Linked DNA regions of Homo sapiens: regions 1 and 3 are each reported to be linked to region 2. Evidence: microRNA targets listed by miRTarBase, many of them from high-throughput screens and not tested one by one. Region 2 holds a microRNA gene; each other region holds the end of a gene's coding sequence.

Region 1 (3,965 bases), not on the chromosome of region 2:
AAAATAAAATAAAATAAAATAAATAAATAAATCCTGTTCTAATGTCTCAGCAGAGTCTGGCCAAAAGTAGACTAGTGGTTGCCAGAGGGGCTGGGGCCTGGTGGGAGGGAGGGGATTAGAGTGACAGCTAATGCGTATGGGGTTTCTCTCCGGGGCAGTGGGGGCAGAGGGGGACAAAAAATGTTCCAAAATTAGATTGTGGTGATGGTTACACAGCCCTATGAATATGATTTTTAAAAAATCATTGATGCACAGGGACGGGCGCACAAGGCTGTGAGTTCAACCTGCGCTGTGAATTGTGTAATATGTTGACTATCGCAATAAAGCTGTTTTTAAAAGACTTGTCAATTATTTGCAATGAATGGACCTGATGTCGATCTTAGTCGAAACAAGCACACTCTAATCAAGGCAAGCTGAACATTAAGTGGATATCTGATGATATAAAGGAATGATCATTGATAATTTTATGTGTAATAATTTTTTTGTTGTTGTTGAGTCCTTATCTTTTAGAGATATACATGGAAATACATATGGATGAAATGCTCTGATGTCTGAGATCTACTTTAAAAACTGGTGGAGTGGATACAGGGAGTGGGTGAGCTATGAAGACTGGCTCACATCAAAACCGGCTCAGCGACTCACTATACCATCTTCTCTGCTCTTGTATGTTTCAAATTTTCCACAACTAACAAGATTTAAAACAATCAATCTAGAGGTGAACAAATGCATCTATAAGGAGAGCAGACCCATCACAGAAAATACATAACACACAAGGCCAGTAAGTATTTGAAAAGAGGCACAACCTCCAGAGTAACTAAAGAAATGCAAATGCAATTGGGGAAACATTTTGCACCTAGTGCGTGACAGAGGTTAAAACCTCTGATGATGCCCAGGGCTCACCTGGGGAGCAGGTGCTCACATCTTGTGATGGTGCCTGTGGAGAGACACAACCTCTACTATCATTTTATTTTAGTGTTTTCTTTTTATTGAGACGGAGTCTTGCTCTTGTTGCCCAGGCTGGAGTGCAATGGCGTGATCTTGGCTCACTGCAACCTCTACTTCCCGGGTTCAAGCGATTCTCCTGCCTCAGCCTCCTGAGCTGCTGGGATTACAGGCACCCGCCACCATGCCAGGTCAATTTTTTGTATTTTTAGTAGAGATGGGGTTTCACTATGTTGGCCAGGCTGGTCTTGAATTCCGGACCTCAGGTGATCCGCCCGCCTCAGCCTCCCGAAGTGCTGGGATTACAGGTGTGAGCCACCACGCCCGAATTCCTCTTGTAGGGATGTATGCATCAGATACACTTGCATAAATATGCACAGAAGTATGTTCAATGATGCTCTCGAAGCAGTATTTGTGGGGGTAAAAACAGGAAGCCACCCAACAATGTAGCCACAAGGAAGGAGGCAGATCCATGTGTACTAGACAGCCTTGGAGCCCTGTGGCATCCATTTGTCATTAAAGGGTAAGATGCAAGGTTCAGAGTAGTGTGCACAACATGATCCCTTTCAGGTTAAAATATAATTAACAGTCAACAAACTTATGGATACCATGAATAAAAGATATCAGTCCAGCTTCTTTAAAAAGTCAATACTGATGACCTCTGGAGACTAGGGATGGGTTCTTTGGGGTGGAAGGAGGATGATGGTTTACTTTTCACCATGTGCACTTGTGTGTGTTTTTAAAAATGTTTTGTAGAGATGAGCTCTCCCTGTATTGCCCAGGCTGGTCTCAAACTCCTGACTTCAAGTGAACCTCCTTGCCTTGACCTCCCAAAGCGCTGGGATTATTACAGGTGTGAGTGACTGCACCAGGCCTTCTGTATGCTTTTTTATCATAAGGATGTCTTCCAAGTGTCCGCCTGTACCCCCCCAAAAAATGGGCAGAGAACTCAAGAGGGCAGTTCTTCGTGGTCAAGTGGATACAATGTTCACCTGCTAACATTACAGTAAAGAACCTCCCTCCTCCCTGGGTACCCAGTGCACCAGCAAGGAGTTCAGCCTTCTGGGGATGATGCAGCACATACATGCAAGTGCAGGGCCCTCCCTGCCTCTTTTGCACACTGACAGCATATCACACATGGCGTTTCACACCATGCTTCTTTGTATTTAATGTCTATCTTGAGGAGCTTCTCAATGGCTATATCTACAGAGTGGGAAAAACTATTTGCAAACCATGTATCTGGTAAAGGGTTACTATCTGTCTCAACTTGGGCTGTTCTAACAAAATACCACAGACTGGGTAGCTTAAACAACAGGCATTTATTTCTCACAGCTCTGGAGGCTGGGAAGTCCAAGATGGTGGCTCCAGCAGATTCAGTGTCTGGTGAGGGGGGCTTCCTGGTTCACAGATGGTAGCTTCTAGCTGTGTCCTCACATGGCAGGAGGGGCAAAAGAGCTCCCTCGGGCATCTTTTATAAGAGCACTAATTCTATGCAAGAGGGCAGAGTCCTCAGGACCTAATCGCTTCCCTAAACTGTTGACCTTAGGGATGAGAGTTCAATATACGAATTTTTGGGGGACACAAACATTCAGGCCACAGCAGTATCCAAACTATATAAGGGACTCAAGTCAACAACAAAGAACAAATGACCCGGTGTATGCAAAAATGCTCAGTATCACCAACCGTTAGGGAAATGCAAATCAAAACCGCAATGAGAGAGATCACCTCATACCTGTTAGGATAGCTGTTATTAAAAAACACAAGATAAAGAATGTTGGCAACAATGTGGAGAAAAGGGAACCCTAGTGAACTGTTGGTGAGAATGGAAATTAGTACAGCCTTTATGGAAAACAGTATGGCGGTTCCTCAAAAAATTAAAAATAGAACCACCATTTGATGCAGCAATCCCACTTCTGGGTATACATATAAAAAAGAGATGAAATCATTATCTTCAAAAGATAGCTATACTCCCATGTTTACTGCAGCATTTCCACAACTGCCAAACTATGAAAACGACCTAAGTGTCTATTGGTGGACGGATTGGTAAGAAAATGTGGCATGTTATTTTTTACAAGGAAAGAAATCCTATCATTTGCAATAACATGGAGGAACCTGGAGAACATTATGTTAATAGAAATAAGCCAGACACAAAACAAATACCACATGATGCCACTTACATGAGGAATCAGCTGCTGAGCACTGGGTGTGGCCTGTCCCCTCCGCGTTGGCACACTGGCGGCTTCCACTCAGTGAGTTAACTTGGTGGGCTGCCCCTGACACAGGCTGGCCCTGCTACCCACATCTGCCTGCTGAAGAGCTCATATGACCCTCACTCTTGAGGGGACGTTAGCATCAAATCTCTCTCTCTGTTAACCCCCACACTGACTCCAGGCCCAAGCACGTCCCACAGCCATCAGGTCCCCACCCAAAGGGATCCCATGGGCTTTGCCCTGCAGACTTGGCCTGACCACTCAGAGGCAGGCGGGGCCATGACACAGACGGTTTATTCAGACCTCTCCACCCGCCACAGTTCCACATCCCAGTTCAGCAGGCCATTCTGTGACAGTTCCTACTGGTGGGTCTGTCTATGACAGCCCCATCCTGAGTTCCAAGTCCATGTCCTGACTGAGTGGTGAGTGTGCTCACTCGGTGCTCAGGAAGACTCTCTTGCGTGCGGTATTGGTGTAAGGGTGCCAGCGCCACTCCACGTCTGCTGTGGCCTCCTGCTCCAGCGTGCCCAGACGGATCATGTACACTGCAGGCAGGGATGGCATCAGCCCCGGCACAGCCAGCCTCCCCTCCCCACCCCAGACACGGGATTCAGCCTCAAACTCACGCTTCAGCTCAAAGCGGGGCCCGACCTCAGTGAGCTCCACGTTGCGGTGGTCTGTCTTCTTATACACATGGTGCCTGGGAGGGAACAGCTGTGGGTCAACGGCAAGCAGCACGAGGTACACAGGGTGGGGATGCTTTCCTGGGGCATGGCCCGTGGACCCACCGGAATGATATGTAGTCGTCCTGGT
Region 2 (4,500 bases):
GTGGTTTAGGGGTGAGAGGTGGGAAGCAGATGCCTGGGGTAGGGGTCAGAGGTGGGTGAGGCAGGAGAGGTCCTGACACGCCCCCCTGCCCTCAGCTGGTGTGCACTGCAGTCGCCATCCTCCTGCACTACTTCTTCCTCAGCACCTTCGCGTGGCTCTTCGTGCAGGGGCTGCACCTCTACCGCATGCAGGTTGAGCCACGCAACGTGGACCGCGGCGCCATGCGCTTCTACCATGCCCTGGGCTGGGGCGTCCCTGCTGTGCTGCTGGGTGAGGGCTGTGACCCCCAACCTCCAACCATCACATGGCCTGACCCCTGACCCTGTCCCCACTCCTGCTCATGACCCCCAACCTCAAACCCCAAGCCATCTATTCATGGGGTTGCTGCTCTGCCCTCACCCATGCTTTCTCCCATACATGGGCTGGTCAGCAGCTCTGGAACACACACCCTCAGTCCTACCCTTTCTCTTCCCAAGGCCTTGCTGTGGGCCTGGACCCTGAGGGCTATGGGAACCCTGACTTCTGCTGGATCTCAGTCCACGAGCCCCTCATCTGGAGCTTTGCTGGCCCTGTTGTCCTGGTCATAGTGGTGAGTGCCCTGGACTTGGTGCCCCCTCTGTACTTCCCTCCCTCATTGGGGGAGGAGGTGCAGTGGACTCAGCTGAGGGCGGTCAGGTGGCATTCTGCAGGCTTCCTGGGCTCGGCCTTCATTTTTTCTGTCCTCTGGTCAGTAGCCACCCCCATTCAACTGGCATGGAGATGGGGGCGCGGGGTCAGAGATTCAGTTGCCTGTCCCTGCCTCTGTCTCTGCTTCTCTCTCTCAGTCCCTCTCTGGTTCCCAATTTCTTTTTCTGTGATGCTAAGCTCCTTTGGTGTGTGTGTATATGTGTGAATTTCTCACTGGTTCTGCCTCTCTCCGTGAATCTTAGTCTCTCTCTGTCTCTCATTGCCTCTCTCTCTCTCTCTCTCTCTGCCCTGCCCGGCCCCACATGTCTGGCCGTGGGTCCAGATGAACGGGACCATGTTTCTCCTCGCTGCCCGCACATCCTGCTCCACAGGGCAGAGGGAGGCCAAGAAGACCTCTGCACTGTGAGTTGGCTGGCTGGAGGAAGGGGGCTTCTCAGGATGGCAGGTCCCTCCTGGGTGGGGTCTGGGGCCCCCAGATCTTCCCTGGTGCAGGTTGGGCTCCAAGTTCTAGATGAAGGAATGAAGTCACACCTGCCCTGACCTGTGGTCCCTCTCTGGCGCCCTCGCTATACTGTAGCCCCACATGTGCTTCTGCCCTGCTGTCTCTCCTTGTCCTCTGGGTCCCCCCAGAGTCTCCCATGGCCTGGGTGGCTCACTTTGCCCCCTGCCCTGTGTGTTCCCACCTGTCTTCCGTGCCCTCCCTTGTGGCTCCCATACCCCTGTGTTTTCCCCACGTGTCCTCATGGCTCTTTGACTGCTCTCCTGTTTCTTTGTGGGACCTCCCATCTCCCCCAGTGTCCTCCAGAGACCTCCATGTTCCCGTGTGAGTTCCTTTTTTTCACGTTTCGTGTGTGGCCCCTGTGTGTCCTCCCGTGTTCCCTGCATGAGTCCTACATGAGCCTTGCATGTCCTCCTGTGTCTTCCCATGTCCCCACAGCAGGACCCTTCGCAGCTCCTTCCTGCTGCTTCTGCTGGTCAGTGCCTCCTGGCTCTTTGGGCTCCTGGCAGTCAACCACAGCATCCTAGCCTTCCACTACCTCCATGCTGGACTCTGCGGCCTCCAGGTGACTCTGGTGCCCCTCCCTTGCCCCAGAACCAGGTGGGCCTTCAGTAGGCTGGGGCCATCCCTAGGCAGACGTTGACCCTAGGCCTGGAGCTGACTCTTACTGGATAACTTTGCCAGGCTGGGTACTACCCCAGACCAGACACTGGCCCTAGCTGCTGCCCCCAGGCCTGGAGCTGACTCTAACTTAGGCACTGATCCCAGACTGAGTGCTGATCTTGGATCGACCTTCACCAACACCAAGGCTCCCGACCCCTTGCTGATCCACACCGACCTTACAGACTCCAGCCACTCCTGCTGCTCCATCCTCTCCCCTGCTGACCTTCCCCAACTCCCTTACTGAGTCCCGCATGGGCTCCTCACTGACCCACACTAGCCTACAGTGACTGACCCCATTGCTGACCCACAGTGACTTATACTGGTCCCTGATTGATCCCTGCCGACTCTGCTTTGACCCTCGCTGACCCACAGGGCCTGGCGGTGCTGCTGCTCTTCTGTGTCCTAAATGCAGATGCTCGGGCTGCCTGGATGCCAGCCTGTCTGGGCAGGAAGGCAGCGCCTGAGGAGGCAAGGCCAGCACCTGGGCTGGTGAGTCGGGATGGGGGCCCTGAGAAGCCAGAGTTTTAGGCTGCTTCAGGGTTAGCTCACACTCTGTCCCTACCACCCCCAGGGACCTGGGGCCTACAACAACACGGCTCTCTTTGAGGAGAGTGGCCTCATCCGCATCACTCTGGGCGCCTCCACCGTCTCCTCTGTGAGCAGTGCCCGCTCCGGCCGGACCCAGGACCAGGACAGCCAGCGGGGCCGCAGCTACCTCAGGTGAGAGGAAGAGCCTCCTTGTGAGGGAACACTCAGCTTAGTCCAGCCCCACCTTACCAGGGCTTGGCTGACCAGGTCCTAGGGCGGGTGGCTCCACCCATCTTGGCCATCTGGGGCCCTGCTTCTGCCTCTGCCCTAAATGCTTCCCACCACACACACCCAGGGATGCCATTCCACCCGCAGCTGGCTGTGCACTCAAAGACACTCCAGCCTCCAAGGCACCCCATCACATCCCTCTTTCATGGTGGGGGGGCTCCTGCTTTTCCAGGGACAATGTCCTGGTTCGACATGGCTCAGCCGCTGACCACACTGACCACAGCCTCCAGGCTCATGCTGGCCCCACTGACCTGGACGTGGCCATGTTCCATCGAGATGCTGGTGGAGTTGGGGCCTGGGGCAGGGAGGAGGGAGGCAGAGGATCTCTCCCCATCCCCTTTTCTTCTACCCCATACTGGGAGCAGTGGCTGACTGGGGTGGGACGATCTCCCCCAGGGTCCCTGCCTCAGGAGGCACCTACCTCTCCAGCCCTGGTTCTCCCAGTCCACTCCTGATTCGTCCTTCCCTCTGATAAGTCCCAGCCCTTCTGCTGCTACCTCCACTTCAAGCCCCGGTTCCTGTCCCCAACCCTAACCCCCTTGCCGTACCCACCTCTAGACCCTCAACTCCAAATTCCCTTATCTCCAAGTCCCTTACCTCTGAAAGTACTTCTGACTTTCCCAACTCCAGGCGCAGACTCCGACTCTGACAGTGACCTGTCCTTGGAGGAGGAGAGGAGTCTCTCCATTCCATCTTCAGAAAGCGAGGACAATGGCCGGACGCGGGGGCGCTTCCAACGGCCACTCTGCCGAGCAGCCCAGAGTGAGAGGCTCCTCACCCACCCCAAAGGTGCCAGGCGCCCTCTGACCCCTTGGGTGACCAAGGGATGCCCCATTTGTTATCCCTCCAGCTCCCCATCTTTCCTGCGGTTGGGGTTCATCCTGGTCTTTCTGACCCCTCAGTCATCAGGTTCCCCAACTTTTAGTCTCTGTCCACCTCCAGTTAAGGGGAGGGAGCTCACCAGTCACCCCCACCCATTGATCTCTGAGGAGATACCCTCCTGTTCCCACCTCTGCTCAATGAGAACAGCCAGGGTTTCAAGGGTCATTAGGGTCAGGGGTCATGAGTCACTGGGATCAACCCAGAAGCTCCTGTAACCTGACCTGGCTCCACAGATGTGGATGGCAATGACCTCCTGTCCTACTGGCCAGCCCTGGGGGAGTGCGAGGCAGCCCCCTGTGCTCTGCAGACTTGGGGCTCTGAAAGGCGCCTGGGGCTGGACACCAGCAAGGATGCAGCTAACAACAACCAGCCAGACCCGGCCCTGACCAGTGGGGATGAGACTTCTCTGGGCCGGGCCCAGCGCCAGAGGAAAGGTACAGTCCCTGAGCCCTGGCCCACACCGCAGACACGCTGGGGGCTGCTCATGCCCTGAGCCAAGGGATTGCAGCTTCCTCATCCCAAACTGAGAGCTCTTCTTACTCTGACCTAGGGCGCTTCTGCTTCTCTAGCCTGCTTCACGGTCCTCAGGGACTGCTCCTGTCCTGACCTGGGAATTCTCTGTCCCCCTCTACCCTGGCCAGCACCACAGGGGGACCACAGGCGACCACTCCTGCCCCAGCCCATCTGTTTTTCAGAGACCCTAGGAGCTGCTTCCCCCTGCCCCCCACCCAGATCCCAGAGCCCGTGCTCTGATCTGGAAGATTTCTGCCCCCTACTCTGCTTTTATGGGGACCCGGAGAAGAGGTTTCTGCCCTCACCCTTGCATCACAGGGACCTGGGGACTGCTCCTGTCCAACCCGGGGGGTTCCTGCATTTCAGCCAGGCCTGCATTGTCAGGACCTGAGGGCTGCCCCTCTTCTGACCTCAGGGAGTTTGCCCCATCCCCTGCACCA
Region 3 (3,965 bases), not on the chromosome of region 2:
GGACTGAATAAAGCAGATAGCCCTCCCCAGTGCTGGTCAGCATCATCCAATCTGTTGAGAGGCTGAGTAAGAAAAAGGTGGCTGGGTGTGGGCTCAGGCTGGGCATGGTGGCTCACACCTGTAATCCCAGTATTTTGGGAGGCTGAGGCAGGTGGATCAACTGTGGTCAGGAGTTCAAGACCAGCCTAGGCAACATGGTGACACCCCGTCTCTACTGAAAAAAAAAAAACAAAAAACCAAAAATGAGCTAGATGTGGTGGCACGTGCCTGTAATCCCAGCTACTAGGGAGGCCGAAGCACGAGAATGGCTTGAACCTGGGAGGCGGAAGTTGCAGTGAGCTGAGATCACACCATTGCACTCCAGCCTGGGCGACAAGAGCAAAACTCCATCTCAAAAAAATTAAAAAAAAAAAAAAGACACTCTAGAGCAAGCTTGTCTAACCTGCAGCCCACAAGCCACAAGCAGCCCAGGACAGCTTTGAATGTGACCCAACACAAATTCGTAAATTTTCTTAAAACATTTTATATATGTATTTTTTTTTTTTTTAGCTCATTAGCTATTGTTAGTATTAGTGTATTTTATGGTTTGGCCCAAGAGAATTCTTCTTCCAACGTGGCCCAGGGAAGCCAAAAGATTGGACACCCCTGCTCTAGAGATTGTCAGAAAAATCTGAACACGGATTGGGTGTTGGACATTACAGAACTGTTTTCTTACAATTGTTTTCTTTTTTCTTGAGATGGACGTATTAATACAGTACTTCATAACCATTTAACATGGGTAAAACTTATTAGGCTTCCTTTGTGCTAAAGTTTTTGGGTGTTGTCTCCATTTTGCATACTGCAATGACTTCTGTTACCTAACTATGTAACAAAAGGTCAATTAATAGCTAAATCTAAGTGGAGGGTAATACAATGTTCATACTACTCTTGAAACCTCCCCAGTAGCTGGGATTACAGGTGCCTGCCACTATGCCCGGCTTTTTTTTTTTTCCTACCTTTAGTAGAGACGGGGTTTCACCATGTTGGCCAGGCTGGTCTCAAACTCCTGACCTTGTGATCCACCCGCCTCGGCCTCCCAAAGTGCTGGGATTACAAGCGTGAGCAACCACGTCCGGCTGGAAGAATTCGAAGAATGCTGCTATACACACTATTTGTATTATTTAGGCATAACCTATGAACAAAAAGCTTTGTGCTGTTAGGCTGGGCATGGTGGCTCATGCCTGTAATCCTAGCACTTTGGGAAGCCAAGGTAAGGATAGCTTGAGCCCAGGAATTAAACGCCAGCCTGGGTAACACAGCGAGACCTCGTCTCTGTGAAAAAAAAATACAAAAATTAGCCAGGCATGGTGGTGTGCGCCTGTAGTCCCAGCTACTAGGGAGGCTGAGGTGGAAGGACTGCTTGAGCCTTGGAAAGTTGAGGCTGTAGTGAGCCATAGTTGTGCCAATGCATTCCAGCCTGGGCGACAGAGCAAGACCCTGTGTCAAAACACATAAAACAAAAACACTTGGCTGGGCATGGTGACTCATGCCTGTAATCCCAGCACTTTGGGAAGCCGAGATGTGCGGATCACGAGGTCAGGAGTTCAAGACCAGCCTGGCCAACACGGTAAAACCCCATCTCTACTAAAAATACAAAAACTGGCCGGGTGTGGCAGCGTGCACCTATAATCCCAGCTACTCGGAAGACTGAGGCAGAACTGCTTTAAACCTGGGAGGCGGAGGTTGTGGTAAGCCAAGATGGCACCATTGCACTCCAGCCTGGGTGAGAGCGAGACTCTGTCTCAAAAAAACAAACAAAAAAAACTTTCTGCTATCTGGGTGCAGTGGCACAGGCCTGTAGTGCTAGTTACTTGGGAGGCTGTGGCAAACTTGAGCCCAGGAGTTTGAAGTTATAGTGAGCTATGATCTTCACACATGAATAGCCACCACTCCTGCCGAAGCAACATGGCAAGGCACTGCCACTGAAAAAAAAAACATCTTGTGCTGAGTAACTGACAGATGTTTAAATATGGATTAGGTATTTTGACTTATGATTTTAGGATATACCTGATTCAACTGTTTTATGGCAGCTAGAATTAACATATTTCACGTTCTTATCAAAGTGAGGAATAAATTGAAGTACTAAATTCCAGATAATACAGAAATCTTTATCTAAAAATATTAGACACTTACCAAGTTAGTTAACTATTTCAGTTTCATGATGAACACAAAAGGAGCTTCAGACTGTTTGGCTGAAATCCTTTCTCCACAATGCTAGAGGGGCCTAGTTGCTTTCATGAAACTCCTTGTGAAATACTCAAGGAGATGGTAGCTGAAATACCAGATTGTTTAGGCCAAACTTTTGATCGACCTTAAAAGGTCTAGCCTTTACTCAAAGGTATGAAAGCTTTTACAAAAAGAGTGCTTGACTAAGTGCCTTTAATCCCAGGGCTTTAGAAGACCAAGGCAGGACTGTTTAAGGCCAGGAGTTCAAAACCAGCCTGGGCAACATAGTGGGATCCCATTTCTGAAAAAAAAAAAAAAAAATATATATATATATATATATACACACACATATATATATAGGGATGGTGGCACATACCTGTAGCTGTAGCTATTCTAAAGAATAAAGCAGGATTCTTTATTCTTAGCTCAAGTCCAGGAGTTCAAGGCTGCAGTGACCTATGATCACGCCACTGCACTCCAGCCTGGGTGATGAGCTTTTCTCTAAAAAAAAAAAAATCACTAGACTTCAATATGTGCGAAATAAATAGATTGGAAGGTGGCTAAAGGGAAGAGACTAGTTACAGATTTGACACTCTTCATGGTGAGATGACACTGATGCTTAGATCAGGACAGTGGCAATCAAGATGTTTAAAATCACTGGAACAAGACATTAGTTAAGAAACCCTTTTGTTTAAGTAAGATTTGCTACATATATGTATACACTTTTATTTGCAGAAGGAATCCAACACAGCAGTCATTATTACTGGGAAAAGGAATTAGGATGATAGGATAAAAGGAGGCTTTCATTTTTCATTCTCTTTCTGTACCATTAACTTATTTTTGTTTTAACTGGGCAGCCTCCCAAGCCAAAGTAGGTTCAGAGAGGTGCCACTTGGATCATTAACTTTTAAGACAGCATATATATTATATGTTGGTAGTTTTTAAGGCCAGGGAGCATTTATCAGTGATGAGCATATTGGGCCATTTTTTTCCTCAACATGTAAACTCACTTTTTACGCTTCTTTTATTAGTTTTTATTAGTTTTTCAAAAGTATCAGAAATAACAGAATGTTGGGAGAAGATAAATCTGCCTTTTGAAACCAAATATTTAATATTTTCATTAAATTGTTTCAATACAACTTCAGGCAAATGCCAACTGGAAGACCAAGCCCAGAAATTCAGAGGAAATAATCTTCCAAACAAGGAACACCAAGGTGATCTTCTTCCATTCCAGCCACAATACTGGTGATCATAATGGTGCTAGTCAGTTATCCAGATTATCGAGTGTTTACCTGATAAGAGAAAAACTTAGATTTCAAAACCTGTAATGACAGAATTTTAAAGCTGGAAAATGTTTAAGGCAATTAATAAAAGGAAAACCTGTATTAAGAACTGCTGTCACCTTGATGACTAGCAAATATTTATCAAAAGTAAAAACTTGGCCAGGCACGGTGGCTCATGCCTGTAATCCCAGCACTTTGGGAGGCTGAGGCAGGTGGATCACAAGGTAAGAAGTTCGAGACCAGCCTGACCAACATGGTGAAACCCCGTCTCTACTAAAAATACAAAAATTAGCTGGGTGTGGTGGCACATGCCTGTAATCCCAGCTACTTGGGAGGTGGGAGACTGAGGCAAGAGAATCGCTTGAACCCAGGAGGCGGAGGTTGCAATGAGCCGAGATCATGCCACTGCACTCCAGCCTGGGCAACAGAGCAAGACTTCGTCTCAGAAAAAAAAAAAAAAAAAAAAAAGTAAAAACT

Evidence for each region. The annotated mature microRNA hsa-miR-4793-3p reads UCUGCACUGUGAGUUGGCUGGCU and lies in region 2 at 1,082-1,104, shown strand. An mRNA with a match to its seed (bases 2 to 7 or 8) in the 3' UTR can be bound and repressed. Matches are read on the target gene's strand: a 7mer-m8 pairs with bases 2 to 8, a 7mer-A1 pairs with bases 2 to 7 and ends in A, and an 8mer does both.
Region 1: the mRNA of IMP4 is a reported target of hsa-miR-4793-3p. The part of its 3' UTR that is shown has no 7-base or 8-base seed match.
Region 3: miRTarBase lists CCT4 as a target of hsa-miR-4793-3p. The part of its 3' UTR that is shown has no 7-base or 8-base seed match.

The regions. Positions count from the first base shown.
Region 1 is chr2:130,346,088-130,350,052 of GRCh38, reverse strand. It overlaps IMP4 (IMP U3 small nucleolar ribonucleoprotein 4), which reads right to left. Exons shown (of 9, transcript NM_033416.3): 7 at 3,941-3,965; 8 at 3,779-3,852; 9 at 2,086-3,697. The coding sequence ends at 3,585. Among named protein-coding and RNA genes, the nearest start is that of IMP4, 5.2 kb to the right of the region's middle.
Region 2 is chr3:48,640,805-48,645,304 of GRCh38, reverse strand. MIR4793 (microRNA 4793) reads left to right here and starts at 1,025; the gene lies at 1,025-1,111. CELSR3 (cadherin EGF LAG seven-pass G-type receptor 3) reads left to right here. Exons shown (of 35, transcript NM_001407.3): 25 at 96-270; 26 at 477-589; 27 at 1,010-1,089; 28 at 1,628-1,751; 29 at 2,222-2,338; 30 at 2,421-2,569; 31 at 2,838-2,947; 32 at 3,296-3,454; 33 at 3,781-3,981.
Region 3 is chr2:61,865,210-61,869,174 of GRCh38, forward strand. CCT4 (chaperonin containing TCP1 subunit 4) reads right to left here. Exons shown (of 14, transcript NM_006430.4): 14 at 2,876-3,497. The coding sequence ends at 3,483. Among named protein-coding and RNA genes, the nearest start is that of FAM161A, 13 kb to the left of the region's middle.